Homo sapiens: one gene and its partners. The protein of the gene in region 5 interacts with the protein of the main gene of each other region in a pairwise test. Each region holds a gene or a part of one and is shown on either strand. Other genes may lie near its edges.

What was found.
Region 1: the proteins of CPSF7 (region 5) and NCK2 interact in binary tests that used the Homo sapiens proteins (3 or more experiments, as listed by UniProt).
Region 2: the proteins of CPSF7 (region 5) and DRC4 interact in binary tests that used the Homo sapiens proteins (3 or more experiments, as listed by UniProt).
Region 3: the proteins of CPSF7 (region 5) and RBM10 interact in binary tests that used the Homo sapiens proteins (3 or more experiments, as listed by UniProt).
Region 4: the proteins of CPSF7 (region 5) and GUCD1 interact in binary tests that used the Homo sapiens proteins (3 or more experiments, as listed by UniProt).
Region 6: the proteins of CPSF7 (region 5) and U2AF2 interact in binary tests that used the Homo sapiens proteins (3 or more experiments, as listed by UniProt).
Region 7: the proteins of CPSF7 (region 5) and SMAD3 interact in binary tests that used the Homo sapiens proteins (3 or more experiments, as listed by UniProt).

Annotation. Positions count from the first base shown.
Region 1 is NC_000002.12:105,855,995-105,860,600, forward strand, and holds part of NCK2 (cytoplasmic protein NCK2), read left to right. Parts: intron 1-4,606. UniProt on the Homo sapiens protein: Adapter protein which associates with tyrosine-phosphorylated growth factor receptors or their cellular substrates. Maintains low levels of EIF2S1 phosphorylation by promoting its dephosphorylation by PP1.
Region 2 is NC_000016.10:90,031,990-90,036,595, reverse strand, and holds part of DRC4 (dynein regulatory complex subunit 4), read right to left. Parts: intron 3,879-4,606; coding exon 3,672-3,878; intron 964-3,671; coding exon 909-963; intron 216-908; coding exon 10-215; intron 1-9. UniProt on the Homo sapiens protein: Component of the nexin-dynein regulatory complex (N-DRC), a key regulator of ciliary/flagellar motility which maintains the alignment and integrity of the distal axoneme and regulates microtubule sliding in motile axonemes.
Region 3 is NC_000023.11:47,175,824-47,180,429, forward strand, and holds part of RBM10 (RNA-binding protein 10), read left to right. Parts: intron 1-676; coding exon 677-763; intron 764-3,279; coding exon 3,280-3,340; intron 3,341-3,495; coding exon 3,496-3,672; intron 3,673-3,722; exon of another isoform or gene 3,723-3,958; intron 3,959-4,056; coding exon 4,057-4,217; intron 4,218-4,388; coding exon 4,389-4,486; intron 4,487-4,595; coding exon 4,596-4,606. UniProt on the Homo sapiens protein: Binds to ssRNA containing the consensus sequence 5'-AGGUAA-3'. May be involved in post-transcriptional processing, most probably in mRNA splicing. Binds to RNA homopolymers, with a preference for poly(G) and poly(U) and little for poly(A).
Region 4 is NC_000022.11:24,539,507-24,543,213, forward strand, and holds the end of GUCD1 (protein GUCD1), read right to left. Parts: intron 3,595-3,707; coding exon of another isoform or gene 3,592-3,594; coding exon 3,500-3,591; 3' UTR 932-3,499; downstream 1-931.
Region 5 is NC_000011.10:61,405,470-61,410,075, forward strand, and holds part of CPSF7 (cleavage and polyadenylation specificity factor subunit 7), read right to left. Parts: intron 1-4,606.
Region 6 is NC_000019.10:55,668,048-55,672,653, reverse strand, and holds part of U2AF2 (splicing factor U2AF 65 kDa subunit), read right to left. Parts: intron 4,148-4,606; coding exon 4,068-4,147; intron 3,985-4,067; coding exon 3,862-3,984; intron 3,572-3,861; coding exon 3,473-3,571; intron 3,211-3,472; coding exon 2,962-3,210; intron 1-2,961. UniProt on the Homo sapiens protein: Plays a role in pre-mRNA splicing and 3'-end processing. By recruiting PRPF19 and the PRP19C/Prp19 complex/NTC/Nineteen complex to the RNA polymerase II C-terminal domain (CTD), and thereby pre-mRNA, may couple transcription to splicing.
Region 7 is NC_000015.10:67,159,602-67,163,101, reverse strand, and holds part of SMAD3 (mothers against decapentaplegic homolog 3), read right to left. Parts: intron 1-3,500. UniProt on the Homo sapiens protein: Receptor-regulated SMAD (R-SMAD) that is an intracellular signal transducer and transcriptional modulator activated by TGF-beta (transforming growth factor) and activin type 1 receptor kinases.

The DNA of each region.
Region 1 (4,606 bases), on a different chromosome or scaffold from region 5:
CGGCTAATTTTTTGTATTTTTAGTAGAGATGGGGTTTCACTGTGTTAGCCAGGATGATCTCGATCTCTTGACCTTGTGATCCGCCCACCTTGGCCTCCCAAAGTGCTGGGATTACAGGCGTGAGCCACCGTGCCCGGCTCCCCATGTGCCTCTTGTTTTCCCAGGTGTTGTCAGGTTATGGGCAGTGCCCTCCTGGAGTTACACAAAGTTAACAGTATCCAGTCTTGCCTTTACATGCACACGGAACTGACTTACAGTATTTACTGCCTCAGATTACCTGAGAAAATAATTGCGAGGACTTTTTTGAAGAATGACTCATCTGAGCTGACATTTAAAACGTTGTTACCTTCTTATGAGTATAATGTTGTCTGTATCCAAGACTGCAGGTTATCACTTAAGGGTTTGCTAGTGAAATGAGTTAATATTATCACCTGTGTCACATTTACTTGGGGTTTTAAAAAAATTTCTAACAAGAGGATTTGTTTTCTTTTGGGGAATGGAGAATGAGGAATACGTAGGAAAACTGAAAGTAAAATTATACACCAAATGTGGTGGGTGTTGCAAAATGTTCATCTTTTCTTTTCTGCCATGTTGAAAAGTCTAAACTCCCTCTGCAAAATCATCGAAAGCCTTCATGTATTAGGTAGTATTTTTGTGTATGGATTAGGTTCTTACCATGATTTGGAGAGATAAGTGAGACATGGAACTTCGTATGAATCATACCAGCTCACTGGCCATCGTAGATTCTCAGCCTGATGGAGAAATTTCATTTTTGATTAGCAATATGCTCCTTCTCCACTGAGCTGCCTCCCTTTCATCTTTTCTTCCCCCACATAAGCATGCCACTTGAAAGAAACACTGTTTTATGCTTATAACTCTTAATTAACTGTGGTTACCAAAAAAAGAGGGTAGCATGAATAGAGAAAAACTTGAAGGTTGTCCTGAGCTTTATTTTTCCAATTTCTACCTTTCACCAAAGTACCATCTTTTTAGTGATGCCAAACATTGTTACGTTGTTGACTTGTTGTGTGTCTTCTTTTTTTTTTTTTTTTTTTGTATTTACAAGATTCTAGTAAAGCATGAAGTGCTTAGAGACTTGTAGGAAGTAGAACAAGGCAAGGCGAGTTCTCTGGGTGACCTGGAAATTCCCTTGAAAACCTTGTCAGTTTTCTTCCTCAGTTTTCTAGAAGCAGAAAAGACAAAGCCACAAATTAAAACTATGAACCACATCTTCCGCCCAGCATGCTTAGTTTTTTCATGAGCTGTGATCGGTTCAGCCAATGCGTGTACTCCCAGGCTCTCAGACTGAGCCAGCCGCCCGTCCTGGAGCCGGCACTGGGCCCGCGCCCGTCCCCGACAGATGGCCATCCAGCCCTGCTGGAGCGCAGCGTCGGTTCGAGTAGGCCAATCCCATTTTTGGCGAAAACAGATTGTTAGAAAGCTCTTCCTTAAATAGAATCAGATTTTTACATTTCTTTAACTTTCTTCCTTCCTTTGGCTCTTATTCTGCCCTCTAGGCCTGTGCTGAGTAGGTCAGATCCTCTTCTGTAGAGTGTCAGCCCTCCCATAGGCTTGGTCTCAGTTCAGGCAAGCAGTTCTTGGGAAACATTCCTGTTAAGCATTAGCTATTGTAAAAATACAGAAAAAATGATGTTCTGAACCCCTTTATTGAGTATAGCAGTTGATCTTCATAGCCAAAAGGCCCTTGGGGATCAGTATCCCCGTCATGAGGGAGAAATATCCCCATGGTTAGTATATATTTTTTGTTTTGATCTCTTTATCATGCTCACCTGGAGGTTTTTGTTGGACAAAGGGATGTTGTTATCTCAGCATGAGTTTTCCCTTGCCCTGTTGAGCTGCATCCAGTGGAAGAGGAGGCACCCCCGATCAGGTCTCACCATCATGCAGTAACTTCTGTGCACTTCTGTGCAAAGCTTATAGATGTGGCGTTGCCAAGAAGGAAAGTGAGAATGCTTTCCATAGCCCCTCCTGCCTCTCATTAGTTGCATTTGTGTGTGTTTGTGTTTTGTTTTTTGTTCTTTGTTTTTTGGGGTTTTTTTTTTGTTTTTTTTTTTGCTAAAAAGATAGGAGCCAAAGTGTTCATGGCTTCCTATTACTGTTGGTGATGATAATTAAACAGGTATACCATCAGAATGACAGTATGACTTTAGGCCAATTGTGCAGCCTGCAGAAATTATCCCTGCTGTGTATTAGGCATGGAAACAGCATCAAAAGTACACCACATGTATACTGACCACGGTTTGTTTTTGTTTTTGTTTTTTGAGACAGGGCCTCACTCTGTTGCCTAGGCTGGAGTGCAGTGGCACAATCCCTGCTTACTGTAGTATTGACCTCAGGTGATCCTCCCACCTTAGCCTCCCGAGTATCTGGGACTACGGGCATGCACTACCACACCCAGCTATTTTGTATTTTTTATAGAGACAGGATTTTGCCATGTTGCCTGGGCTGATCTTTAACTCCTGGGATCAATCTAGTAACTCATGGCACCACCCACATTTGCCATTTTTACTGCTTTGGGAGTCCACCTAATTCATAAATCCATGGTAAGATTCCTTCCTGCTTTGGAATAAAATGGCACCGGCCTCCCCAGCAAAACCACAGTGTTGTGTATTGCATCTCCAACTGTAGATTACCCTAACTCTGTGTAGTTCTCTCCTGCTTTCTTGTACTCATTTGCTGTCCTGAAGTTGTTAATAAACTTAATTTTGTCACATACAGTACTTTGTTAAGAGTAGCTTGAGGAAAGACGTGAGAACCTTTGACAAAAAGCTCTCTCATGAAAGTATTTACCTGCTTTCTTTCTCTGCAATAATTTAAAATTGATAAAAGCAACCTGAGCTCTTATTTTCACATGGGCAAAACATTTGTATACTGGATCTCTTCTCATATTCAGCTTATGATCATGAATAGTCAGAACTTTGCCACAGATAACAGGGAACAATGATCAAGAACTGTTTCTGCTGGCAGAATCCAGTTGATGTTTTTGAAGGGCTCAGACTGCACAGCTCTGAGCTCAGTGGAGAGCGGTCCTGGGCTGAGGTCTGGCCTTAATACTGCAACTCCACTTAGAAAATTGTGCAGGCGAGGTGTTGTAAAAGCACTATGCTACATCTTTTGAGATGGGGAAGCTGCTCCCAGGGAGGTATTTTTCAAAGATTTTCCCTCAAGCTACTGAAGAGCAGTTTTTTGTTACTACTTTATGACACCAGCTGGAGCCTTGCAAAGCCCCAAAGGTTAATTCTCTTTTCGGTGGTTAACATAGGCTTAAGGGCTGACTCACATTACCCAAAAAGTTACGGTTCCATTTACAACCTGATCATATCCTCAGGAGGGTTTGTTCACAGGCCCACCTGCCCGTGGCTCACCCTGCCACCCTACCTACCTGGGACTTCTGCATCCAGCGTCACCTGCCCCAGGGCTCACTCCTCAGCATTCCTCCCAACAGGACCACACCTAGGCCTAGCGTGGTTAGAAACTTGCATGATCAGCCCCAGAACTCCTGCCTCTGATCCAACCCAGACCTGGGAGCACAGAGGCTACTGAGAGGGCTCCCTAATGCTAACTGTGAAACAGCCTTTGCACTGGTTTGAGCTGATGCTTTTGGATGGGGACAGGGTGGCTGGCACCCGTGGGTGAAATTGACAGGGTTCTGAGAGGCATATCCCTGCTAGGATCAACTTTGGAATTGAACTGATCAAAGTCACAAGGAGTACAGCTGTAGGATTGTTACGTAAGATCCAAAAGCAGTGAAAAGCAACACTTGGTGTTAGAATTAAGATTACAGTACTCTGGAGGGAGGGAGGCAGAGCCTCAGTGAAGGTACAGGGGCTTCTGTCTTGGTGATCTGCCCTGGGGTCTGTGGGGCAGGCTCACGGGCACACCTGCCTTGGAGGAGTTTGCAAAGCTGACTGCTTATTTCTGTTGGTATTATACTTTCGTTTTTAAGAAATTTATTTTAGAAAAATGTCAGTTCAAAACAACAATCAGGGCTGGGCACGATGGTTTATGCCTGTAATCCCAGTGCTTTGGGAGGCTGAGGTAGAAGGATCAGTTGAGGCCACGAATTTGAGACCAGCCTGGGGAACATAGCAAGACTTCATCTCTACAAAAAAATTTTTTAAAAAATAGAGCATGGTGTCATGTGCCTGTGGTCCCAGCTACTCAAGAGGCTCAGTTGGGAGGACTGCTTGAGTCCAGAAGTTGGAGGCTGCAGTGAGCAGTGATTGCAACACTGCACTCCAGCCTGGGCCACAGAGTGAGACCCTGTCTCAAAAAATGAGCCATAAAAAAACAAAAACAACCATCAGAACAACAAAATGTCAGAACTTTTAGAGTTCCTGCATCCACAAGGGGACCCTACCCACCAAGTGCCAGCCTCCGTCCCAGAGGTCAGGATGGACAGAGCCCCTGCTCTGGTGTAGTGTGTATGTTCCACACAGGCTCAGGGACCTGCTAAGCCGTAGGCGTCTCAGAATGAGGAGGGGCATCGCATTGCTGGAGTGAAGTTCACAGCGGGGCATGGAGGATGAGCGAGCATGTAGTCAGAACCGCATGGGGAGGCCTTACTGGGCTGTGCACAGGACTC
Region 2 (4,606 bases), on a different chromosome or scaffold from region 5:
GCACAGCACCTTGAGGGAGTTGATGAGGGCCAGGTTGTTGAGGGTGATGTCGTTGTAGTAGTTCTTAATGTCGGTGAAGGCCTCCTCGTGGCGCTGCATCAGCGTGTGGATCTGGCCATTCTTCCTCTCCTCCACTTCGTGGAGCTCAGTCTTTCTCCGCAAGTCGAGTTCGTCCCTCAGCATCTTCATCTTCTTATCATACTTGGCCTCAATTTCTGAAAGGCAGCAGCAAACAGCAGCTTAGCAGAGGAAGACGTGGTGCCCCTACGGCTACAGAACATGGAGCCTGTAAACGGGCCCAAAACGCCCACTGTGGTCAGAACAGCCTTGCAGGCAAAAGCTCTGCAAGAGAAGAACAAAGGGGTTTAGACTGAGTTTTTCTGCTGATGCTCACACTCAGCACACACACCACTGTCGGCCTGCCTTTGCCAGTGACAGGCATTGCTAATCGCTCCCTGCACTGGGGGTGCCAACAGCTGAATGTCAGCTGACCCCAGTGAGCAGTAACCGAGGCCTGTGTGGCCACCCAGCCACAATCAGCCTTTATTAGTAAAACACAGAGACTTCTGAAATTGGAGCCTTCTCAGACCAGGAGCCATGGAGAAGACTATTTTAAGAAGGCTGCCCACGGCACTGAATAGCTACCACCTGCTGATAACTACTGATTTTAGCTAGGAGTGGGAATGTGTGTGGTAATCACAGCCTCCCAAACTCACATGGAAATAGGTTGTTCTGGGATTCTGAGTGGGTCCACTGGCCTTGGAAACTTCCATGTTCTTTCTCTTGCATGCCTTGGCTGTTTTAATCCAGTTTTTGCTCCCTGAGTTAACAAGCTCTGGAGGTAAATTCCTCTCTGATGGGGCGGGGGTGTCTCTGGCACCTACACAATGAGCACACGGGAAACTGACCTCGAACTTGCCTCTCAAAATCATTCCGCATCCTGGTGATCTCCTCGGTGTGTTTCTGCACAGGGAGAAGCGGCCATTACTACACAGCCGGACACAGAGGGAAGCCCGCTCCCTTCAGGCTGACCCTGTTCCTCATGGTTTTGGTCACCTCCATATTCCCTAACTCACCTCCCTCAACTAAAGTCACCTCTAAGCTTGAGAGAGAACATGAACAGACGTCGTGAGCACTGAACCCGCTTGGTTCCATCGCCAAACCATCCCACAGCCTGAAGAGCAGCAGCCACATCCACACAGAGCTGTGGGATCTTTCCAGGTGCCGTGTGTAGCTTCCAACCTGCTGCACTGCTGCCTGAAGCAGCATATTAAAAGGATTCATTCCTGTCATCCCAGCACGCTGGAGGCCAAGGCAGGAGGATCACTTGAGGTCAAGAGTTCAAGGGCAGCCTAAGCAACATAGCAAGATCTTCTACAGAAAATTTAAAGATTGCCGGGCACAGTGGCTCACGCCTGTAATCCCAGCACTTTGGGAGGCCGAGCTGGACAGACCACCTGAGGTCGGGAGTTTAAGACCAGCCTGACCAACATGGAGAAACCCCGTCTCTACTAAAAATACAAAATTAGCCGGGCATGGTGGCACATGCCTGTAATCCCAGCTAGTCGAGAGGCTGAGGCAGGAGAATAGCTTGAACCCGGGAGGCAGAGGTTGTGGTGAACTGAGATTGTGCCACTGCACTCCAGCCTGGGCAACAAGAGCAAAACTCCATCTCAAAAAAAAAAAAAAAAAAAAAAAAAAAAGATTAGGTGGGTGTGGTGGCTCATATCTATAGTTCCAGCTACTTGGGAGGCTAAGGCAGAAGGATCACTTGAGACTAGAAGTTCGAGGCTGCAGTGAGCTATGATTGTACCATTGCACTGCAGCCCGGGAGACAGAGTGAGACCTCATCTCTAAAAATAAATAAATATATAGTTTTAATGAACAATTATTATATATTTAAATAAACATTATATATTTAAAATTTGCATAAAAAAATAAATTATTTTTAAAGCAGTAATTTTTCTTTTTTTTGAGACAGACTCTCACACTGTCGCCCAGGCTGGAGTGCAGTGGCACAATCTCGGCTCACCGCAACCTCCGTCTCCCAGGTTCAAGTGATTCTTCTGCCTCAGCGTCCCGAGTAGCTGGGATTATAGGTGTGCGCCACCACGCCCGGCTAATTTTTGTATTTTTAGTAGAGACGGGGTTTCACCACGTTGGTCAGGCTGGTCTCAAACTCCTGACCTCGTGATACACCCTCCTCGGCCTCCCAAAGTGCTGGGATTACAGGCGTGAGCCACCGCACCCGGCCTAAAGCCATATTTTTACCCAACAGGAAACTCTGATTATGTAACAATATCATATCCAGGACCTGGGTTAAGACCAGCTAATTCTGGAGGGCTCAAGACTTCGGCACTCTCAGGCTTTGCTGCGAAGTCAGCAACGTCACCAAGTTTCTTCCAGATTCAGTGGAGGCTGGACTGCTTCCAGGCGTGAGGCAAATGTGTTCAGAAAGTCTCCTCAACCCAGCAGCCAGGAAGAACCTTAGTGAGACACATCTCTCCTCTGCCCAAGTTCTCAGAGGGCAACAGACTCCACCAGGGTCAAAGTCCCAGTCCCCACCACGGCTTTCGAGGCGGACGAGCTCTGACCCGTCTCCAGTCCCCACCACGGCTTTCGAGGCGGACAAGCTCTGACCCTCTCCCACAGTCTCCTCCTGGTCACTCTGAGCTTTCCCACTGGCCCATCCCGTCTCCCAGCCGGTCAACTGCTTGTACAAAACCGCACCCCACCTCTCCCCACTTCGATCCTTCTATGGCACTCTTCCCCACCAGATACTCTGTTGTATCTGGCACGTTTATTTTGTCTTCCAACTCACCTGTTGTCTCTCCTTTCTAGACCAACAGCCCCAGTCGGGCAGGCGTTTTGTCAGAGATCAGATCAGGACCTAGCAGCTAATGGACACTCAGCAAATGATCTCTTTCCTTTTTGTTTTGTCTCACTCTGTCACCTAGGCTGGAATGCAGTGGCACAATCCTAGCTCACCACAGCCTTGACTTCCTGAGCTCAAGGGATCCTCCCGCCTCAGCCTCCCAAGTAGCTGAAACTATCGGCATGTGCCACTACACCAGCTAATGTTTTCTTTTAAATTTTTTAGACATGGGGTTCAACTATTTCACCCAAGCTAGTCTCAAACTATTGGCCTCAACCACTTCTCCCACCTGACCCTCCCAAGTGCTGGGATTTTGGGTGTGAGCCACTGAACCAGGTGCACAGATGAATTTTAATGGTGCCCTGGAAACCCCCAGCCTCAAAAGTAAAAATCAGACCAGCTTGTGTGACAAACTGTCACAGTGCCCAGGAGTCAACACACTGGATATTTTAATGGTTGGTTTGCATTCTACTAAATGCATATGATGCTATTCCCTAGGAAAAGTCTCTGGGTGTCAGGTGTCAGCAGCACATGAAAGATCCTAAGCTGGATTTTTTCTCTTCGGTGACGTCAATTTTTTGCTCAGGTCTGAGACAGAATTGTGTACTTGGTCCCAAAATGGGGTTTGTTTGGATGCATGCTTTAAAAAATTTTTTTTCAACAAATTGCAAAAATGCAGAAAGTCTTATGCAGAAATATGAATTCCCAGTTGCTGTTGAATAAACAGGAGTTCATGCAGCACTAGGCTTGCCGTCCCAACAACCTGTCAGCCTCCAGGTGCCCCCGCCACACCTACCAGCCGCAGGTTCTTCACCACCACCTCACTGGCCAGCTCCTGCTCCTTGAGCTCCACCTTCAGTGCCCGCATGTCCTTGCGCAGCACACTCTCCTGTATGCGGTGCTCTTTCTGTGCCAGCTTCATGACTACAGTGCCCTCAGCCTTCATCTCTGTCAGGTTGTTCTGGTGCTCATATAGCAGGTGCTTCACTTTCTGCTTGTACACCTGCAGGGCAATGGGAGTACCATCTGCTCACCTGCACCACACCTCCTCACCTTTCCGTACCTGTGCACACCTGGTCACCCATAGCACACCTGTACCACACCTCCTCACCTGTCCATACCTGTACACACCTGGTCACCTGTACCACACCTCCTTACCTGTCCATCCATACCTGTACACACCTGGTCACCCATACCACACCTGCACCACACCTCCTCACCTGTCCGTACCCGTACACACCTGGTCACCTGTACCACACCTCCTCACCTGTCCATACCTGTACACACCTGGTCACCCATACCACACCTGTACCACACCTCCTCACCTGTCCGTACCCGTACACACCTGGTCACCTGTACCACACCTCCTCACCTGTACATACCTGTACACTCCTGCTCACCCACACCACACCTGTACCACACCTCCTCACCTGTCCATACCTGTACACACCTGGTCACCTGTACCACACCTCCTCACTTGTACATTCCTGTATACACCTGATCACCTGCACCGTACCTGTAACACACCTCACCTGTACATACCTGTACCCCCCTGCTCACCTGCACCACACCTGTACCACACCTTCTCACCTGTCCATACCTGTACACACCTGGTCACCTGTACACCTCCTCACCTGTAAATTCCCGTACACACCTGGTCGCCTGCACTACACCTGTACTACACCTCCTCACCTGTACATACCTGTAGACACCTGGTCACTTGCACCTACC
Region 3 (4,606 bases), on a different chromosome or scaffold from region 5:
GAGACCCAAAGATCTGCCTGGTCACCCACCCCTGCCCAGATCCCTGGTGTAGGGCACTGGAGAGCAGTTTCAGGGGAGGAAGGGGCAGAGGTGGTAGAATGGGGGATCCCGGCAGAGGCAGCCCTGGGGCCGTCTCCTCGGGGTTGGTAGGCTAGTGCCATGGGCCCAGGACCCAGCCATCCATGGGAAGACGGCCTCATGGCAGAAACTTCCATCTGTTCGAAATGGCTCTTTCTTTTTCCCCTTCTCCAGCACTAGCGCACCTGCGCTCTCTTTCTCTTTTTCTCCCCTCTCCCTCCCCCTCCCTGTCTCCCCTCACCCCCCAAGTGTAGCCTGTGTAGTCCTGGCCCTGGGTGTGGCCTGGCAGTGTCAGGGCCGAGTGGGGGTTTCTCCCCACTGTCCGGCAAGCGTCGGTCAGCCGAACACTGTGTGCCTGGTGGTGTGTGTTCACATGTGTGCGTGCGTGTGCCCGGCAGAGCAGCAAACAGCTGCGCCCGAGAGCTGTGGCGCTTTCCCTCCCTACCTCCCTTCTTCCCTCCATCCGCTCTCCGACCTCCCTCCGTTCCCTGTCCCTCATCCATCCAGCTGAAGGGCTCGCTCACTCTCTTCTCCTATGCTGAAACGGTGCGTGGGGCACTGCTGCCTGGACCTCACTGTGCTCTGCTTTTTCCCGCAGCACTCCCTCAACATCCTGGGCCAGAAGGTGTCGATGCACTACAGTGACCCCAAGCCCAAGATCAATGAGGACTGGCTGTGCAATAAGGTACAGGGGCGGTGGGCAGCAGTTGTCATGGACAGAGACAGCAACAGCAGTGGCGGCGATCTCTCCCTTCCTCTCCCGCTCTTTCTCCCTCCATCTCTCCCCCTCCCCCAATCTCTCCTCTCCCTCTGTCTCTCTCTCTCTCTCTCTCTCTCTCTCTCATTCTCTATCCCTTGCTAGCTCAGCTTGAGTAGTCACCATTCCTAGCCAGCCATATACAAATGTGTAGTGAGCGTTCACTTGGTGCAGGCTCTGTCCTCCTAAAATGCAGTCTTGCCTGGAGTTCCAGTAGACTTTAAGGAAATATATACGTGGATGATGAATTAGTGACAGTGTAGACTTGAAGTGGTGGTGTGGAGAATGTGGGCTTCAGAGCCAGACTGGCTGAAATGAGACTATCCCAGATCGGCCTTGATTTTGGCCAAGGTGCTTAGCCTCTCTTTGCCTCACTTTCCCCATCTCTAAAATGTGAATATTAATGACACCTCTCCCAAAAGGTGGTTGGGAGGATTCAGCTGTGTTAATGAGAGAGTAACACTCAGAACAGTGCCTGGCCCACATTTAACACAGTCGAATTGTTAACTGTAATCATGAAAGAAAAGCACAGAGCGTTCTGAGAGCCCATAGCAGGTAGCTCAAGCCTGAAGGCCACTCTGACCAGGCCAAGTCAAACCTGAAACTGGAGGCTGTGGTTTTGTAGTCACCTCTGTCTTCCCTGAGGGGAAGCTGAGGCTCAGAGAGGTGGAACCATGGGTGAACCTTTAGCTGTGCCCTGTGCCTTGCTCCTGATCACAGGGACTTGGATGCCACAGTGGCTTCAGGTCTGCCCTGGGGCCAGCATTGTGATTCCACAGTTTGTAGAGGCCCCAACCCTCTCCCCAGGAAGTACTCTGCCTAGTCAGGGAGAGTGGTGCATCTGTTTTAAAAAAAAAAGTCCCATCAGAGGATTGGTGCTTAACATTTCTGGAGAGATAAAGACAAAGTGACAGTGGAACTCCTTCCTGTGTTTCCAGATAGCCTCAAAACCAGGGAATTCTCTTTTTTTTTTTTTTGAGACAGGATCTGGCTCTGTCGCCCAGGCTGGAGTGCAGCAATCTGGGCTCACTGCAACCTCTGTCTCCAGCGCTCAAGCCATCAGCCTCCAGAGTAGCTGGGACCACAGGCGCATGCCACCACACCCACTAATTTTTGCCTTTTTATTTTTATTTTTTTTGGTAGAGACAGGGTTTCGTCATGTTTGCCAGGCTGGTCTTGAACTCCTGAGCTCAAGCAGTCCTCACGCCTCAGCCTCCCAAAGTGCTGGGATTACAGGCGTGAGCCACCACGCCCAGCCCAAAACCAGGGAATTCTCTTGAACTCCTTCCCCTCCCCTGCATCCTGTTGGCCACCAGGTCCTGTCACTTCCATCACAGAAACGCCACCTTCCCTCCCTCGCCATTCCCGCTGCTCATGCCAATCGTCACGCTCTCACCCACTCACTGTGGAGCCCTCTCTGGTATGCTGGCCTCTTGTCCTCTTTCTCCCACGCCCTCACCTGGAACATTCCTCAAAACCACCTCTGACTACCCACGCCTCTCCTCCTCTGCTTAACCAGCCCCAGCTCAGCTTAAGCATAAGATCCTCCATTACCTAACTGGCTTCCTTCCCCGGCCTTGGCTTTTGCTTCTCCCCTTACTCTCCCACACCAGTTTCGGAAAGTCCATTGTTCCCTCCGATAACAATCCCTCCCCAGCAAGGCTTAACAAAATGAAACTTCTGGGCATCCCAGGTCAAACCTCCCTGCTTCTGTGCAGGGACTGTCCCTGCCGAGTAAATGGCACCCCACCCCCAGCCCATTTCCCTCCCCGAGCCCCTGCTGGATGGTCCATGCAGACCGACCTGCCCCTCTTCATGCTGCATCTGCCCCTGTGCTATTAGGCCATGAGGGCAGAGACCATGTTCTGGCCATGTGCAGCAGGGCCTGGCCCAGGAGTGGTGCTTAGTACCTGAGTCTGGAACAGAGATGGAGTGTGGTAGAAGCTGGGTCTCCAGATGCTGGAACATTCAAGGAAAATTTCTCAAGCGTAGCAGGATCCAACCCAGTCCTAGAGCTAAGAGGAGGGGTGCGGGTCTGGCTACTGACTTCTAGGGCTGAAACACTGAAAGGTTTCTGAATAGAGGAGCAAGTTTCAGGGAGAGGAACCTAATAAAGGGATTGAATACCTGAGGCGGGGAACAGTCCTGGGAGTTGGTGGCCTTAAGAAGGCAGAGGAAGGAGAGGAGGGAGTTGTTGTACCAAATGGGGGAGTTGTTTATTCCTGAGCTGAGTGGGTTGGCACAGAGGACAAATGAGAGTCTGGAAAGGGAAGATGCACAGTACTGAGAACAACATCAGAAGGTTCAGAAGGCACCTGCCACCATTGCCTAGGGGCTTTCCTTCCTGGGGCACTGCGGGGTCCCTGGGAGATCTCTTCATCCAAGTTTGGAGGGTGCAGTGGGAAATCCCTGCTCCCTCTGACGGCCTGGCCTGTGCCTCACAGTGTGGCGTCCAGAACTTCAAACGCCGAGAGAAGTGCTTCAAATGTGGCGTGCCCAAGTCAGGTGAGGCCCACCTACCTCTCGTGCTCTCCAGGGCGGAGCGGTTGGGGAGAAGGGAAGGGTGAGGGGTCTGTGCTCAGGGCTTGGTATAGGGAGGAGGGTGACCAGTCGTGGAGCCTTCCCCTTATCACCAGCCTGTCTCCCACTGCCCCTGACAGAGGCAGAGCAGAAGCTGCCCCTCGGCACGAGGCTGGATCAGCAGACACTGCCACTGGGTGGCCGGGAGCTGAGCCAGGGCCTGCTTCCCCTGCCGCAGCCCTACCAGGCCCAGGGAGTCCTGGCCTCCCAAGCCCTGTCACAGGGCTCGGAGCCAAGCTCAGAGAACGCCAATGACAGTGAGTCAGTTGTTCCTTCTTCCTCTGTGCCCTAGGGTGTCGGGCTGGGCTCACCAAGACCAGAGAAATGGCAGTGAGCAGGACCTCATCCTCATGGAATCTCCACTTGGTGCGGGGATAGACATTTGATGTAGGGAGAACAGGGGGAGTGGCAACATCCCACCTGACTTTGGGGGTGTGTCGGGAAGGTTCTCAGCAGACAGGCAGCCAGGCTGGCACCTGGACCGCCAAGCAGAGTTGATCCTGGAGGAAGCAGTGAGGGAAGCGGCAGTTGCAAAGGCACGGAGTGAGTGGGGGCAGAGGAAAGGGAGCAGTGGGGGCATTGAAGGGCAGGGCTGGCAAGAGTGCCAGGGGTGTCCTCTAACATTGGGCCCCTTCCCACAGCCATCATTTTGCGCAACCTGAACCCACACAGCACCATGGATTCCATCCTGGGGGCCCTGGCACCCTACGCGGTGCTGTCCTCCTCCAACGTGCGCGTCATAAAGGACAAGCAGACCCAACTGAACCGCGGCTTTGCCTTCATCCAGCTCTCCACCATCGTGGTGAGGGCGGCACAGTTGGGGGCCGGGCAGCCAGGGTCCCGGCCCCCGGGGTGGAGACGAGGGTCCTTTTCCCCAGCCTCCCACCGCGGCTGCCAGCCTGGAAATCGGGCAATGGAGCCGGGGGCCTCCCCGGGCCTGACCCTTCTGTCCCTGCCTCCCCTCCTCCCACAGGAGGCAGCCCAGCTGCTGCAGATCCTGCAGGCCCTGCACCCACCACTCACTATCGACGGCAAGACCATCAATGTTGAGTTTGCCAAGGGTTCTAAGAGGTCAGGGCCCCACCTGTGTGCCTTCCCACCCTTCCCCTCCCCACCCTCCCACTCCCCCCTACCGCTTGGGGCCTCCTATCTCACTCCCAGTCTCTAACATCCTCCTCAGGGACATGGCCT
Region 4 (3,707 bases), on a different chromosome or scaffold from region 5:
CCCAACCTCAGGTGATCTGCCCGCCTTGGCCTCCCAAAGTGCTGGGATTACAGGCATGAGCCACCGTGCCCGGCCTTCTGCCTCCCCTTTAATGATTACTTTTAGTTCTGAAAAGTACAGGAAAGCTGCTGAAACAGGTATTGTTTTAGCCTACTATCCGTTCACTCACATTTACTGAACATCTACTAGGTGTCAGATACTGGGGCTATAGCAGTGGAGACAGACAAGATGATGTGTTTGAGGGAGGATGGGAAGGAACAGAAGTGCTTCTTTAAAAGTGATGACATTGGCCAGGCACAGTGGCTCATGCCTGTAATCCCAGCACTTTGGGAGACTGAGGCAGGCAGATCACTTGAGGCTGGGAGTTCGAGAGCAGCCTGGCCAACATCATGGTAAAACCTGTGTCTACTAAGAATACAAAAATTAGCCGGGCGTGGTCGTGTGTGCCTGTAATCCCAGCTACTCAGGAGACTGAGGCAGGAGAATTGCTTCAACCCAGGAGGTGGAGGTTGGAGTGAGCCGAGATCGCACTACTGCACTCTTGGTCTGTCTACCTCAACCCCAACTCTGCATGCTCTGAGCAGCCAGCTCCACCCAGCACTCACCATCCCACCCACTTTCGTCTCTCCTGCTTCAACATCTCCCTCATTCTGTTGTGTCTCCTGTAGTTGCATTTGTTGCAGTTCACTTGAGCTGAGCCCCGAGGCCCTTCTACCTCTAGTACTGCCTGTCCAGGACAGGCACAAGCATCCAGGCCTGAACGGGATGGATATGGCCCTAGAAAACAGAAAACAGGATTCCAGTCCCAGCTAAACTGGGTATGGCAAGACAAGGACCTGGGTTCCCATGTGCTCATGCTGAGAACTTGAGAAGGGACAGGAATTCTGCAGATCAACACAGCTTCATAAAGGCCAGCCAGGGGCTACCACCATTTTGCAGTGAGAATAATGTTTATTGAGAATGGCTCATTACAAACAAAATATATATAAAATCTCTGCAATGCAAAAGATCCCTTTCATCCCCGTGGCTAGAATGAACAAAGCCCAACTGTCCCACATGGCTTCAGGTGCTGTGCTGGTCCCCAGCATGTGAACAGGCTGGGCAGCTGTCGGTGTCATGTGCTGTGGGCAAAAGTCCCTGATGTCCAGGCTCTCTGGCTCCATTTTCATGACTTGTGCAAGAATGCAACACAGTGTGTCTTACATCCTGCCTCTGTGACCCTCCCTAGGCAGATGAGTCTTGAGAATGGGCAGCTTTCTCATTCATCTTTCAGGAAGGTGACCTTTAACTTGTGGCATGCCCTGAGAAGCCATCCTCTGGGACCAGAGACTGAGTGTTTCTAAACATTTTGGCTGGACTGAGGTGCTGTTACCACCCTCCATGAAGGCCACTCCCTAGTGACAGCCCTAACAGCATGTGCACTGTCTAAATCACATCCCACCATCCTGAAAACTTCATTTCCTCCCACTGGTTTCCTTCATACAGCTATTCTAACAATTTTACCAGAACACCACCTGAAGATGCCCACACCCCACAGCTGCTGTGCATGGGTACTCCTGGGCCACCTGGCATTAAGGCAATGGAGATGAGACCAGTCTAGAGCCAACACCGGTCTCTGAAACCCAGAAGGGCTGCCCAACTAACAGCACCTCCCTCTTGGCCAAAGGCTTTGTCTAGGGTTGAGAAGCAATTTGGCTGGGTGGTCTCACTGCCCTCCTAAACAGAGCCCACCTCTGCCCCCAGAGTCATCTGTGCTCCAAAGCAATGGGCGGGGGCACAGCTGCCACCATGCCATGCCTTGGGCATTGGAAGAGCAGGACCCAGGAGTGCAGGGATGGTATCACTGTTGCCCCTTTGAAAATGACCCATTTCCCACTTTGGGAGGCCGAGGCAGGTGGATCACCTGAGCTCAGGGGTTCGAGACCAGCCTGGCCAACATGGCGAAGCCTGGTCTCTACTAAAAATACAAAAAAATTAGCCGGGCATGGTGGCATGTGCCTGTAGTCCCAGCTAGTGGGGGGCTGAGGCAGGAGGATCGCTTGAACCCAGGAGGCGGAGGTTGTAGTAAGCCAAGATCGTGCCACTGCACTCCAGTCTGGGCAACAGAGTGAGTCTCCGTCTCAAAAAAAAAAAAAAAAATCCATTTCCTTTAGTTTTTTAGGTGCAGACTGGGGTTCAAGACCCAGCTCCACCACTGTCCTGAGCAGACTCCCAAGACTGGGCCAGCTGCCTCGTCAGCTGCCTCGTCTGAGAGGTGAAGGGGCAGGTACTTAAACCACTGGCCAAGTCCCTTTCTCTGAAAAAGAACTTGAGCTGGCTAACTGCCCTGTGCAGAGGTGTTAGTGGTTCCAAAGTACCTTCACTCTTGCTATTACTGTTTTACTTGAAGGTGATTACCCCTCAAAAATGAAAACTTAAATCTCAAAGAAACAACCCCTGACCCCAACCTCCCCAAAAAAGAGGAAGGAAAGAGCTCTATGCTACTTGCTGTGTTGTAAGATCCTGGGCAGGAACCCCTCTTCTCCATCAAGATAGACAAGACCCAGTATCCTGTGCAATCTGGTGTGAAGACCAGGTTGGGTGGGCAGCTGCAGGCTGCCCCAGCCCGTTGCTTTGGAGCACAGGCCTTAGCAGCCAACCTTAAAGGACTAGGGGCTCCCCACACTCAAGAGGGCAGACCCTGCTGTCAGGATTTTGGCTGGTGTCAGGAGGCCTCCTGGGTGCAGGGATCCCTCTGGGGCTAGGGCAGCTGTTTATTCCCAGAGCACTGCTGCCAGCCACGAGGCCTACCAGTGGGATCTAGGCCCGAGAGCCCTCCATCTGACAGAGCTGGAGGACCTGGAGGGCTGTGGGGGCTTTAAGAGTCTCCAGCGGCCAGGGCTCTGCATGGCAGGGCAGCTGTGAGGTGTGTCTATGCTGGGTGGCAGGGGTCAGATGCCCTGTAATGAGCCACAGAAACTTGGGCCCATGGGTAGGCAGGTGGTGGTGGTATCATCAACCACTGGGCACAGGGGCATATGCAGCACTTCCAGGAGAGAGGGGCCTGGAGGGGTCCTCAGCCCTGGGGGATTGGGGTCAGCTATGCTGTCTCCAGACACTCACATACTGTCCTGACAAGTGGCATCCGTCAAGCAACTTCTCTCTCCAGGCTCAGTCCTGCGGTCTGTGGGGAGACCATTGCCATGGATCTGGCTCAAAGGCAACAAGGGCACTGTCGGGACTGGACTTCCTGTGGGCGCAGCTGGAGTCAAGGCTTGGGGTCTTGGGGTATGCTTCCAGCAGCCAGCAGGTGCTTGGGGTGAGTGACATGACAACACACGGCACTGGCAGACAAAGCAGCTGTGCCAGTCTCCGAGTTCCTGGGACTCTGCCAGATGGGCTGAGGCTGCAGTTCCACATTCCAACCCCAGCAGCCCCAAGCCTGGGCCAGGGCATCCTGAGCGGGCCCGGCTGGGGTGGGGATGGGGTCCGAGGGCCTAGGCGCACCAGGCTCCTGCTGTCAGCTGTCCAAGTAGACAAAGAGGATGTCCTCATCTGTGCCATAGCTGGTTCTGGCCTCCTCAAAGTTACTGATGCTGGTGCTGCACATTCCTGCTGGGGGTGGGGAAGGCAGAACGGGGTCAGTGGGTTGTGAGAGAGCACCTACACCACCGACACAGTGCCCAGGGGAGCTGAGTGAGGTCTGTTTCCCATCCACATGGCCATTC
Region 5 (4,606 bases):
AACCTAAATGCAGTTAAGAAGTTTTACCCAAAAGGGTCTATTAAGCCACCTGTCACATGGCCACCAAACAAAGTTCCTACTATACTCAGCACCTGTTCCAATGCTGCAATACCCATCTGCGGGTGGTGGTATGGTCAGTCTGAGCATATTAAACAGAATTAATAGCCAAAGGGAAAATGAGGAATTAGAATTTCTCCTAATGCCCAAACTGGCAACACAGCCTACGCACAAATGTTTACCTTTTATATAACTACTTCTGTAAAGTGGCCTTATAAAACCTAGAGGAGACATCTACGTCCTCCCTGATCCTTGTACACACCGAAATGACACTATTTTCAGCTTGGGTCCTCAGAATCTATATGGCCTAAGCCTTCCTGGCCTGTCTAAACACCTACGCAGGCTGGTATTTGTCCCATTTTCTCTAAGGGAAAACTGAAGCCCTCAGTGCACTCAATTACATACCATTAGGGCTTCTGAATCTTTGAATTCGATCCAAATTGAAGAGAAAGCTCAGTTTTCAATGGATAACGAGGACAGGAATGACGTGAGAATGACTATATTTCAAGTAGGATAATGTCCTAAAATAATGAGATAACTGACATAGTTGAGAACTACAAAAAGTTGAAGACACAGGTTGCAGAGGATAACTTGTACACCAAGAGAAGCAAGCCATAGCACTGAATTCTTAAATCTCCATGGCTACATTTTGGTGCCAATGTTGGAATGCAGGCAGAAATCAGAGATTCCTTCAAGTGGGCCAATTAGCCTTCAGGCCCCAGAACTGGGTCTTACGCCGAGAAAAGATGGACAAAGAAGGCTACTGTTCTATTGCTGCCTCTGGACAAAATGTACCTTTCACTCTCAGGGAACAGCTGTCATCATAGAATATAAATATGATTCATTTCTAACTAAAAGGTTGCTATAAATGAGGACCATGTACCATCTTCCCAACATGAAACTTCCTAAGCCATAACTTGGTCACTACAGATGGAATTAAGAGTCCTTAGGGTGAGAATGTAAGAAATTGACATTCTTGGGGTGCCTGATTCAGTTCTTTCAGACTATTATTCAGATGCAATAACCACTATATCAAACGGGTGACCAGGAAAAGTGAGGAAGTAGAAAACCTGCCTCAGAGTTAATTTTTCCCATCTTGTCATGGGCCTACACAAGTCAAATGACTGTTTTCTAGGCAATATTGTTACAGCATTTTCAAAGTTACCAAAAGAGAGTTATCCTCATAATGGGAGAAATAGTCTCATCTTATTTTATTTTTATTACTATTTTTTTTGAGACAGGGTCTTGCTCTATTGCCCAGGCTGGAGTGCAGTGGCACAAACATGGCTCACTGCAGCCTCTATCTCCCGGGCTCAAGTGATCCTCCCACCTAAGTGCCCCCAAGTAGCTGGGACTCCTCCTGCCTCAGCACCCCCAAGTAGCTGGGACTACAGGAGCACATCACCATGCCCAGCTAGTTTTGTATCTCTGGTAGAGACGAGTGTTTTGCCATGTTCCTCAGGCTGGTCCCTGAGCTCAAGCGATCTGCCCCTCTCGGCCTCCCAAAGTGTTGAAGTTACAGGCATGAGCCACTGTGCCTGGCCCCATTTTATAAGTGGAAGAAATAATGCAAAGTGACAGCTAAAGACTCAGGTTGAGATGTTTAATTCTCAAACTACTGCTGGATCAGTGGATCTCGCTGGTAATTTCCCTGTCATAAGGCTGTCAGGAGCAAAGCCATCAGGAATGGTGACATGCATTTATGTTCTAACTACTAAACTGAATGCAGCCCCAAAGACGACAGTGCATGCTCTGCACAGGTCAATCATCACCTTCCTGTTCACTCTTATCCCAGTCAGCTCCAAAAGACATACACTGTAGCCTACATGTGCTTTTCAACCCACAAGTAACACTAGCAACTGTGCAGACTCAAACAAGAAAAGGGAGTTAGGACTGGACCAAGACCAACTCTAATGCCTGCCCTCATGCCCACCTGAGACTGAATTAGGCCAAAGTTGTTTGTGGTCTCCATCTACAATAGCGTCTGCTTTTCCAGAGGATACATGGGCATCTCCCCAAACTCAACCTGTTGCAAAATCTAGAAAGAAGTACCTGGAGCCCACAGCCTAACTGTTGATTCTACATGAGTTAACCTAGATTTCAATGATGTTAAGCACTCTAGGATTTTGTGGAATAAATGAGTGGCTAACAACAGAGAACAGAGACAAAAAATATTAGTAATTTTTCATCTTTCCACTTACTTGTTTGGGAGAAGATAAAAACAATTCCTGGCTATAAATCTATTTAAGCTAATGGCCAAAGAACAAGACAGAGGGCAGTAGCCAAACCTAAAAGGAGTATTTTGGTTTTTAGTAGGTTGTCACTGGGCAAAATACTGCTAATTTTCCAACTATTTACATTCCAGCTACTGCTCATGAACTATAGGGGCTCACAGGTGGTGAGTTTCTTTGTCCTTCTTCATCCAGATATCGCCATCCCAAAGACACCAAAAAGAACTACTATTCTTTCCCCTCACCTTCCTTTTCAATTACCATTACTTTAGATCAAGCAGGCAAATAATCAAGGACATCTTTTTTTTTTTTTTTTTGAGACAGAGTCTCACTCTGTCGCCCAGGCTGGAGTACAGTGGCGCGATCTCGGCTCACTGCAAGCTCTGCCTCCCGGGTTCATGCCATTCTCCTGCCTCAGCCTCCTGAGTAGCTGGGACTACAGGCACCTGCCACCATGCCCGGCTAATTTTTTTGTGTGTATTTTTAGTAGAGATGGGGTTTCACCGTGTTAGCCAGGATGGTCTCGGTCGGGATAGAGACGGGGTTTCACCATGTTAGCCAGGACGGTCTCAATCTCCTGACCTCGTGATCCACCCACCTTGGCCTCCCAAAGTGCTGGGATTTCAGGTGTGAGCCACCGTGCTCGGCCAAGGACATCTTCCTAATGTACTTGATGTGAGACAGAGAAATGGGAAGTCCTAGAGACTTATAAATCTGCAACCACAAAATTAAGAAAGGACCCTGAAGTTACCTGGGTCACGCAGTAGCCTCCAAGAACTACAGACAGACCCCTAGCCACTCTGGCCTATTTTAAAGATTTCCATAGAAGCAGAGACAACACCTGCTCCTATATGCTTATATAATAGAAACAATCTTTCCAGAAGTTTTCCTTCAGTTGGGATTGCTAAGCTGGTAGGATGCAACCTAAAGACACAGCACCCCCTCTGACTCCCTACCAATATGGAGCCTGTCTAAGAATGAAAGCAACAGAGAAAAGCAGAGCTGAGAGATGCAGATAAAGTCTGGATGACACAGCCAGAGCCCCTGGATCCAACCAATCTTAACTGAACTTCTCCATTACTTAAGAGTTTTTATCCCAACCTTCCTGCTTTCATTTTGCTTCAAAAGAAAATTACAGCCAGTCGCAGTGGCTTCATGCCCATAATCCCACAGCACATTGGGAGGCTGAGGCAGGGGGATCACTTGAGGCCAGGAGTTCAAGACCAGCCTGGGCAACAAAGCAAGACTCTACAAAAAATTTAAAAATTAGCCCTCAGGAGGCTGAGGCAGGAGGATCACCTGAGCCCAGGAGGTTGATGTTACAGAGCCATGATGGTGCCTCATGACAGTGCACTCCAGCCTGGGTGACAGAGTGAGACAATGTGTCTATTAAAAAAACAAAAACAAAAACAAAACAAAACAAAACAAAAAAACAGCCGGGTGCGGTGGCTCACGCCTGTAATCCCAGCACTTTGGGAGGCCGAGTCAGGTGGATCACGAGGTCAGGAGTTCAAGACCAGCCTGGCCGAGATGATGAAACCCCGTCTCTACTGAAAATACAAAAATTAGCCGGGCGTGGTGGTGGGCGCTTGTAATCCCAGCTACTCGGGAGGCTGAGGCAGAGAATTGCTTGAACCCGGGAGGTGGAGTTTGCAGTGAGCCGAGATTGCGCCACTGCACTCCAGCCTGGGCAAGAGTGAGACTCTGTCTCAAAACAAAACAAAACAAAAAACACAACAACAAAATAAACAACCTTGTCACTAAGTCTTTTCCAAAAGCAAAAAACCCTTCCGTTGAAGTTAATTATCCACCACAAAGCCTCTAAACCTGTTAAAGATAATTTTTCAGATCAGCTTTCTCCTCTCTGACTAAAGCATATTAATTTTCAAAATCTTTTAAATAAACCGTTTTTTTTTTTTTAAAGAGATGGGGTCTCGGCCAGGCATGGTGGCTCACGCCTGTAATCCTAGCACTTTGGGAGGCCAAGGTGGGCTGATCACGAAGTCAGGAGTTCAAGGCCAACCTGGCCAGTATGGTAAAGCCCCGCCTCTACTAAAAACAGAAAAATTAGCGGGCGTGGTGACGCGCGCCTGTAGCCCCAGCTGCTGGGGAGGCTGAGGCAGAATAGCTTGAACCCGGGAAGTGGGGGTTGCAGTGAGCTGAGATCATGCCACTATACTCCAGCGTGGGCGGCAAAGTGAGGCTCTGTCTCAAAAAAAAAAAGATAGGGTTTCACTATGTTGCTCAGGCTGGTCTCAAACTCCTGCTTAAGTGATCCTCTAGCCTCTGCCTCCCAAATTACTGAAGTGATGGGATTA
Region 6 (4,606 bases), on a different chromosome or scaffold from region 5:
GTTAAAAAAACAAAACAATTTTTTAAGGTTATCTGGTTAGAGCAGTGGTTGTCAACTGGAGGAGGGGGGGTGTCCCCAGGGAACACTGAGCAATCTTTGGAGATGCTTTTGGGTGTCTCAGCAGGGAGTAGTGCTCTTGCATCCGGTGGGTGGAGGCTGGGGATACATCTCAATATCCTACAACGCACAGCAAAGGCCCCCACAGAGAAGTTATCTGACCCAAAATGTTAATTGAGAAATAATAGAAATATACTTAAGGATCTCAGGTGAAATAAACCTGATAAGCCTTAAAATAATCCAGCAAAGAAAAAGGAGGGGGGAGAAATAAGCTGAATATGAAAATTAAGAATGACAAAATATTGGTAACTTGAAGCCAGATGAAGGAACACCAAAATATTAGCACATATACTATGATAAAAACGTATCACTATCATAGTCCCTACTTTTAAGTATATTTGAAAAGACATGTAACAAAAAATTTAAGAATAAAACAATACAATGCAGTAATTTTTTTTTTTTTTTTCTGAGACCATGTCTTGCTCTGTCACCCAGGCTGGAGTGCAGTGGCGTAATCTTGGCTCACTGCAACCTCCGCCTCCCGGGTTCAAGTAATTCTCCTGCCTCAGACTCCTGAGTAGCTGGGATTACAGGCACGCACCGCCACCATGCCTGGCTAATTTTTGTATTTTTTAGTAGAGATGGGGTTTCACCACATTGGCCAGGCTGGTCTCCAACTCCTGACCTCATGATCCGCCCGTCTCGGCCTCCCAAAGTGCTGGGATTACAGGCGTGAGCCACCTCGCCGGGCCGCCGATGCAATAAATTTAATATGCAAAACAGGTCAGCTGATCCCAAAGGCCAGGGTCTCTCCATTCCTTCTTCCCACAAATGTTTCCTCAGCCCCTGCTTGAGCCAAGCTCCATCCCAGCACCAGAGGGCAGCCCTGAGCAGCCCTGACATACCAGCTCAAGGGAAGGGGACTCTGGAGGGCAGTGGGCAGGAGCTGCAGTGAGAGGAGATGCCGTTGGCCTTCCCCATGCCCCTTTTCTAAGATGCTCCTTCCACCTCTCCAGCCGCCCTCCCCAACCCTGCTCTCCCTGGGCAAACCACTCCGACATCCCAAGCAGGGCCTCGACAGACACCTGAGTGTCCATCAGCCCTCATGCTGGGAACACAGACCTGTCCAGCTAATTTTTCCTTGACATCTCTACTGGGTGTCTCAGAAACCGCAAAGCCAGCTAGCTGCCCCCCACCCCCCGCTCACCCCCGACAAGGTGCTCATCACCCCTGCATCTCACCTGCCATCCCCACCATCAGAGCTGCCACTAAGCAGCTCATAGGCCTTCTCCTCCCCTCCCCACAAACCCACACCCATCACCAAAGTCTGGACACTTCCCAGGCACAAGTCTCCCTCAAATCCATCAACTTCTCTCCATCCCCTGCTACTACTTTAAATCAGATCACCATCTTTCACCAGATTATTGCGGGAGACCTCATTCATTTTCCCAACTGCAGCCACAATCACCTCAAAAATGCCACCACCACAGTCCTGTTTTCTCCTTCAAAAGGCCACCAACTCCAGGGGAAAGCCGAGCTGCTTCCATGACATAAGAAGGCCCCCACGCCCGATCTGGCCCTGCAGAGCCAGCCTTGGTCCTGACAAACCTGGCTGTGGCATCGCTTTGGCAAGACCAACCCTGCCAGCTCCCGGCAAGCCCTCCTGTCCACAGCACCCTCTCTGCCCTCCTGCTGATCCACATCCTGCCCTGCAGGGCTCAGCAGGGAAGCCAGGGCCAGGGGAAGTACCTGCTGTGCCTCCGCACCCACCCCCAACCTCACTATGTGGGGTCATTTCCATCTGCCAGGCGTGACCACCCTGGAGGCCTCTCAGTATTGCTTCCCTCCCATCTGGCTCAAAATAAGCGGTCGTTCCAAGACCCAGGCAGCCCTCCAAGGCCTGCCACTCAGCCCTGGCCCCACCACCTCGCTCACTCACCTGCTCACTGCCACCTCTTGACCTTGACCACCCTGAACGAACAGTACACCCAGGAATGCGGCCCCTGCCCCGACTCAATACGGCATGCAGGTCCTCTAACAGCTGCACGGACAGCAGGGTGCAGGGACAGCAGGGTGCACGGGACAGCAGGGTGCACGGACAGCAGGGTGCACGGACAGCAGGGTGCACGGGACAGCAGGGTGCACGGGACAGCAGGGTGCACGGACAGCAGGGACCTCTATTCACAACTGAACCCTCAGCGTCTAGATCAGAGCCTGGTACGATGGGAATTCCATACATACACCCAGCAAGGGGATCAAAGAGCAGGTCACACGCCCTCACCACCACCATCTCATGAGGCAGAGAGGTGAGGTGATTACACCTGTCACGGCGCTGGAGGTGACAGGACTTAGCAGAGTCTGAAATCAGACTCCGAGAACCTGAAACCTGCCAGTGTGAGCCACCCCCGCTGTGCCTGTCTCCTTCCACGATGGGGCTCAGGGGCTACGGGGAGGGCTCAGGGTGAGCACAGACACAGCTTCGGCAGGGTGCCTGGCACACAGGAGACACCAGCAGGTGTCTCGGGACTGTTCCCGGCACTCTTCCCCACTCCACAGACCAGGCAAAACCATTTGCACAAGCCAGGCCATATAAGGGGGAGCAGGGCCAAGTTCTACAGCGATACAGAGCTACATTCCCCAACTACTGTCTCGCCTGCAGGTCTTGGGCCCCCACAGGGCCACAAACCCCTCAGGGTCACCAACATCTCCCATGGCCCGGCCTGAGGGCGGCACTCAGTGATGGCATACACCTATACGCACGCGCTGCGAGAGGAGAGAGAGAGGAAGAAAGAGCGCGCGGAGAAGAGGAGGGGGAGAGGGTGAGGGAGCAAGAGAGGAAGAAAGAGGGCGCGGAGAAGAGGAGGGGCAGAGGGTGAGAGAGCACTGAGCCCGAGGCCTCCTGACCTTTCCGCAGCCGGGCACCTCGACGCCGTCCACAGGCCGGGGGATCTCGATGGACTTGACAAGCCCGTACTTGCTGCACTCGTCCCGCACGTCCTCCACGATCTCCTCATACTCCTCGTCGTCCAGCAGCTCCTCAGGCAGCACCATGTTCATGAGGCACAGGACCTCAGTCGGGTGGCCGCCCATCTGCACCTGGGAGCTCATCAAGCCCGGCACTTGCAGGGTCACAGGCGTCTGATTGATGGTGCTCTGTGGGGCCAGGGGAGGCAGCGGCGTCACAGGGGGCCCAGACCCAGTCTCCCTCTGCTCAAGCCTAGGCCCCTCACATGCCCCCCCAGGGGAAAGGCCATCTCTCCACTTCCAACACCTAAAGCCCGACTCCCCAACACTGCACTGAATGCCCCCCAAATGCCTTCCCATGAAAGCTGGGAGAAAGATCAGGAACACTTGTCCCCTACTAGCCAGCCCCTCCCACCCCCAGGGTCCCTCAAGCCAATGGAAGATGACGTGCCGGGGGGCTCACCAGCGTGGCATTCTTGGCTCCCACACTCGCCCTCTGGACCAGCAGCTTCTTATCCCCCAGCTGCATGCCGTTCAGCCCCGCAATGGCCTGTGTTTGGAGGATGAGGGGTCGGGGGGTGCGGGGAGAGGTGGGGTCAGGGACCAGGAGCCCGACACCTACCCCCAAGCCGGGGCATTGGTGGGGGAAGAGGGGAAGGCAAAGGGGATTAAGAGCCTGGAAAAAGCCAACGCCATGGGACAGGGACGAGCCCACACACAGGGCACTGCCTCAGGTTGGCCGCCTCCCGCCCCGTCCCCTGAGGAGGGGAGACCATGGCTTGGCAACAGCGCAGGGCAGGGAAGGACAGACGCGGCAGCGGCCAGCGACCGGGGACTCACCTGATCCGTGACGTTGATGTCCACGTACTCACAGAAGGCGTAGCCCTTGGAGAGCCCCGTGGCACTGTCCTTGACCAGGTTGAAGGCCTTGAGGGGCCCAAAGGATGTCAGCAGCTCTTTGACCTGCAGTAGCCGAGAGTCCATCAGGGCTGGGATGAGGTGGGGCGGGGTGGGGGGACGGGTCTGGAGGGAGGCAGGGAAGTTACCTGGTCATCGTTCAGGTAGTTGGGTAAGCCCCCGATGAACAGCTTGTGGGCAGAGTCGGGGACCACAGTGGACACAACCCCTATGGGTAGAGAAGAGGAGGACTTCAATTCCAGTACCAGGTTATCTCCCAAAACCTGGACAGTCTACGGCGAGCTCCTCAATTGCCAAAGAGAACACTTCCTGCCTGATCTGACGAGGGAGGGGTCGCCACGTGCCCACCCCACCCCAGCCTTATCTGACCAGTGAGGGTCCTGGGCAGTGGCACACAGAGGCTCCTCGGGGAGAACGCACCATGTCTCCCAAATCTGCCCAGCCTCAGGGGAACCTCAAACTAGAACATCCTCCAGAACGCTCCAAAGGCACAAAGTTCACACCCACATCTGCTACCTGCTGCTGTGGAATGCTGGCAGGTCACCTGGGCTCGGGACCTACTGGTGAGTCACAACACACCCCACCCCTTCTCTGACAGCCACCCAGGCAAGGCTCCCATTAAAGCTCAGTCCCGGCCGGGCGCGGGGGCTCACGCCTGTAATCTCAG
Region 7 (3,500 bases), on a different chromosome or scaffold from region 5:
CTCAGGAGGCTGAGGCAGGAGAATCACTTGAACCTGGGAGGGGGAGGTTGCAGTGAGCCAAGATTGTGCCACTGCACTCCAGCCTGGGCGACAGAGCAAGACTCCGTTTCAAATCATCATCATCATCATCATCATCATCATCATCATCATCATCACAGAAACCTACAATTACACACAATGAAAGTGTCCTGAACGAAAATAACAAGGAACCCCAAGAGTGTATGACCATGGCACCCCACTTTGCTGAAGGACTGGACAGGGCATCTCAGAGGAGGTGATGGTTGACCTGAAGGCCTAAAGGGTAAGTAAGAACTAACCAGGCAAAGGGGTGCGGGAGAAGGGCAGTACAAGCAGAGGGAAAGGCACACACAAAGGCCCTGTGGAAAGTGGAAAACATGGTGAGGTCGGAAGAACAGAATGAAGGCCAGAAGGACTGGAGAGGGGATCATGAGAGAGAGCTGGCTTGAGACGAGGCCGGGGAGGCAGGCAGGGGTACTCTGCAGGGCCCCAAAGGCCATGATAAAGGCTTCTCCTGTTTTCTAAAAGCAGTATGTAGCCTCTGAGATGTGTAAGTGGGCTGTGCATACGTGTGAAAGAGACAGGCCCTGTGGAACTCTGGCTACGTGTGACCAACAGATTGCGGGTAGCAGGGATAGAAGTGGGGAGCAGATGAGATGGATGCTCATGAGTCACAGGTACCCTATTAAGAGGCAGGACTGCTTTTTCTTCAAGGAGGCCCATCCTAGGACCCTGCCAGTCAGTGCCATAATTTTTCTAATAGCTGGCAGGGCTGGCAGTGAGACATTTGCAAGCTTTCCCTCTGTGCCTTCTTATGACCGAGGGCACCCATTTGCCTGAATACAGAGAATTCATGGGCACTCTGTGAAGGAAGGGCTGGCCAGATGCCACCAACAGCACCAACCAAAGAGAGAAACAGAGGGATCCAATCACACTCTCCAAGCCACTGGCCTGGGAAGGGGAAAGGACAGACAAAGGTCATAGCTGGGCTTGGTCACAGGAACTGACCTGGAGCTGCTGACTAAGGGCATCTTGAAGGATGTAATTACCTTCCTCCCTTGGGGCCCCAGAACAAGGAAGCCCTACAGCTGAAAAACAGTAATTACCAGGCAGATCGAGAAGACAGCCTGGGACTCGTCCCTGAGGTATAAAAGGAGGACTGGCGGATGTGGAGCCATAAGACCTGGGGTAAAGGAGGGTTCTACTCTCCTAGCTGGGAGACACTGGGCAGCTCATGAGCTTCCTAGGACACTCAGTTTTCTCATCTATAAAATGGGGTATTCTGCCCCCCGACCTCCTGAAGCTTGGTTTCCATTTGAAAGTGCTTCATAAACACCCACAAATTAGCGTTATTATTCTCTATCACAGCAGATACTCCCCAAACCCAGCCCTGGATAAGTAGGGTGAGCTGGAGGTTGAACAGGAGTAAAAGGGAGAGTGGGAAGTGGTGAGTGGGAATAGAGAATTATTCAGCTGTTCTCCTTCTCCTGCAAAGCCACTGGGTGCCCACAGATTAGGGAAGTGGCCGTATTTGCTCTTCGGTGTTTGACAAAACTCCCAAAAAAGGGCCAGCTGGACATCATAGCCTCCTCTGCAAGAGAAGGCCTTGGAGAAAAGCTCATGCCAGCAGCGGGGGAGAATGGGGCTGTGGAGGTAAGCTCCATCTAGGTGATAGAAGTGGGTGGCCCTCTTGCCTTAGTAGTAATATTAATCATACATGAATCACTTGGATATTAATTAAACTTTTAAAAACAAGGGAGCTACAATAATCAAGGCAGTATGGTAATGGCACAAGGACTGACAAACGGATCAATGGAACCTAACAGAGTCCAGAAATAGTTACATATATATGGACGACTGGCTTCAACAAAGGTCCAAAGACAATTTAGTGGAGCAAGGACAGTCTTCAACAAATGGTGATGTAACAACTGGATATGTAAAAAAGATAATCTTCAAACTACACATTGTAACCCTATACAAAAACAAACTGAAGTGAAACTTAAACTCTAAAATGTCTAGAAGAAAACAGGAGAAAATCTTTGTGACTTTTTGGGATAGACAATGATTTCTCAGATACCACACCAAAAAGCACTTAATAATAATAAAAAAAAAATCAGACCGCATCAAGATTTAAGCCTCTGGTCTTTGAAAGACACTGTTAAAGGAATAAAAAGGCAAGCACTAACTAAGAGAAAATATTTGCAAAGCGTATATTTGATAATAGACCTGTTTCTAGAACTCTGAAAACTCAATATTAACAATTCAATCTTCTTTTTTTTTTTTTTTTTTTTTTTTTTTTTTTTTTTTTTTTTTGAGATGGAGTCTCGCTCTGTCGCCCAGGCTGGAGTGCAGTGGCACAACCTTGGCTTACTGCAAGCTCCACCTCCTGGGGTCACGCCATTCTCCTGCCTCAGCCTCCCGAGCAACTGGGACTACAGGCGCCTGGCACCGCGCCCGGCTAATTTTTCGTATTTTTAGTAGAGACGGGGTTTCATGTGTTAACCAGGATGGTCTCGAACTCCTGACCTCGTGATCCGCCTGCCTCGGCCTCCCAAAGTACTGGGATTACAGGCGTGAGCCACTGCGCCCAGCCAACAATTCAATCTTTTAAAAAAGAGATACATGATTTGAACAGACACTACCCAGAAAGATATGAAGACAACAAGCATATGAAAAGATGCTTGACAATGTTGATCATTAGAGAAGCACAAATTAAAACTACAATGAGATAGGACTACATACTTATTAGAATGGCTACAATTAAAAAGCCTGATCATGCCATGTATTGGCAAGGATGTGGAACAACTGGAACTCCCTTCCACTGCTGGTGCAAATGTAAAATGGTACAACTATTTTGGAAAACAGCTTGGAAGTTCCTTTCTAAAATATTTTATTTTGGGGGATACACAGTAGCTATACATATTTATAGGGTACTTGCGATATTTTGATACAAGCATACAATGTGTAATGATCAAATCTGGGTAATTGGGATATTCATCCCTCAAACATTTGGAAGTTTCTTAAAAAGCTAAAAAACCATAAGCCTACCATATGATCCACCATTCCACTTCAAAGTATTTACCCAAGAGAAATAAAAGCCTATGTCCAAAGACTTGTGCATGAATGTAATAGCCCCAAATTGAAAACTACTCCACATGTATTAACAGATGAATGAGCCATAACATATCCATACAAAGAAATACAACTCAGTAACAAAAAAGGATCAACTACTGATACATGCAACGCTATGAATGAATCTAAATTAATGATGCTGCGTGAAAGAAGCCAGGCATGATTCTGTTCGTGTAAAATTATAAGGTAATTTAAACTAAAGTAAAAGGCACACTAATCTTAATCTAGTGACAGAAAGCAGGGATCAGTCATTGCCTGGGGACAGAGGGAGTTACAGGGAGGGAGTAGGGATTGGAGGGAGCAATTACCAAGGTGCACTTGGAAACTTTTTTGGGGGTAAAGGTTATGTA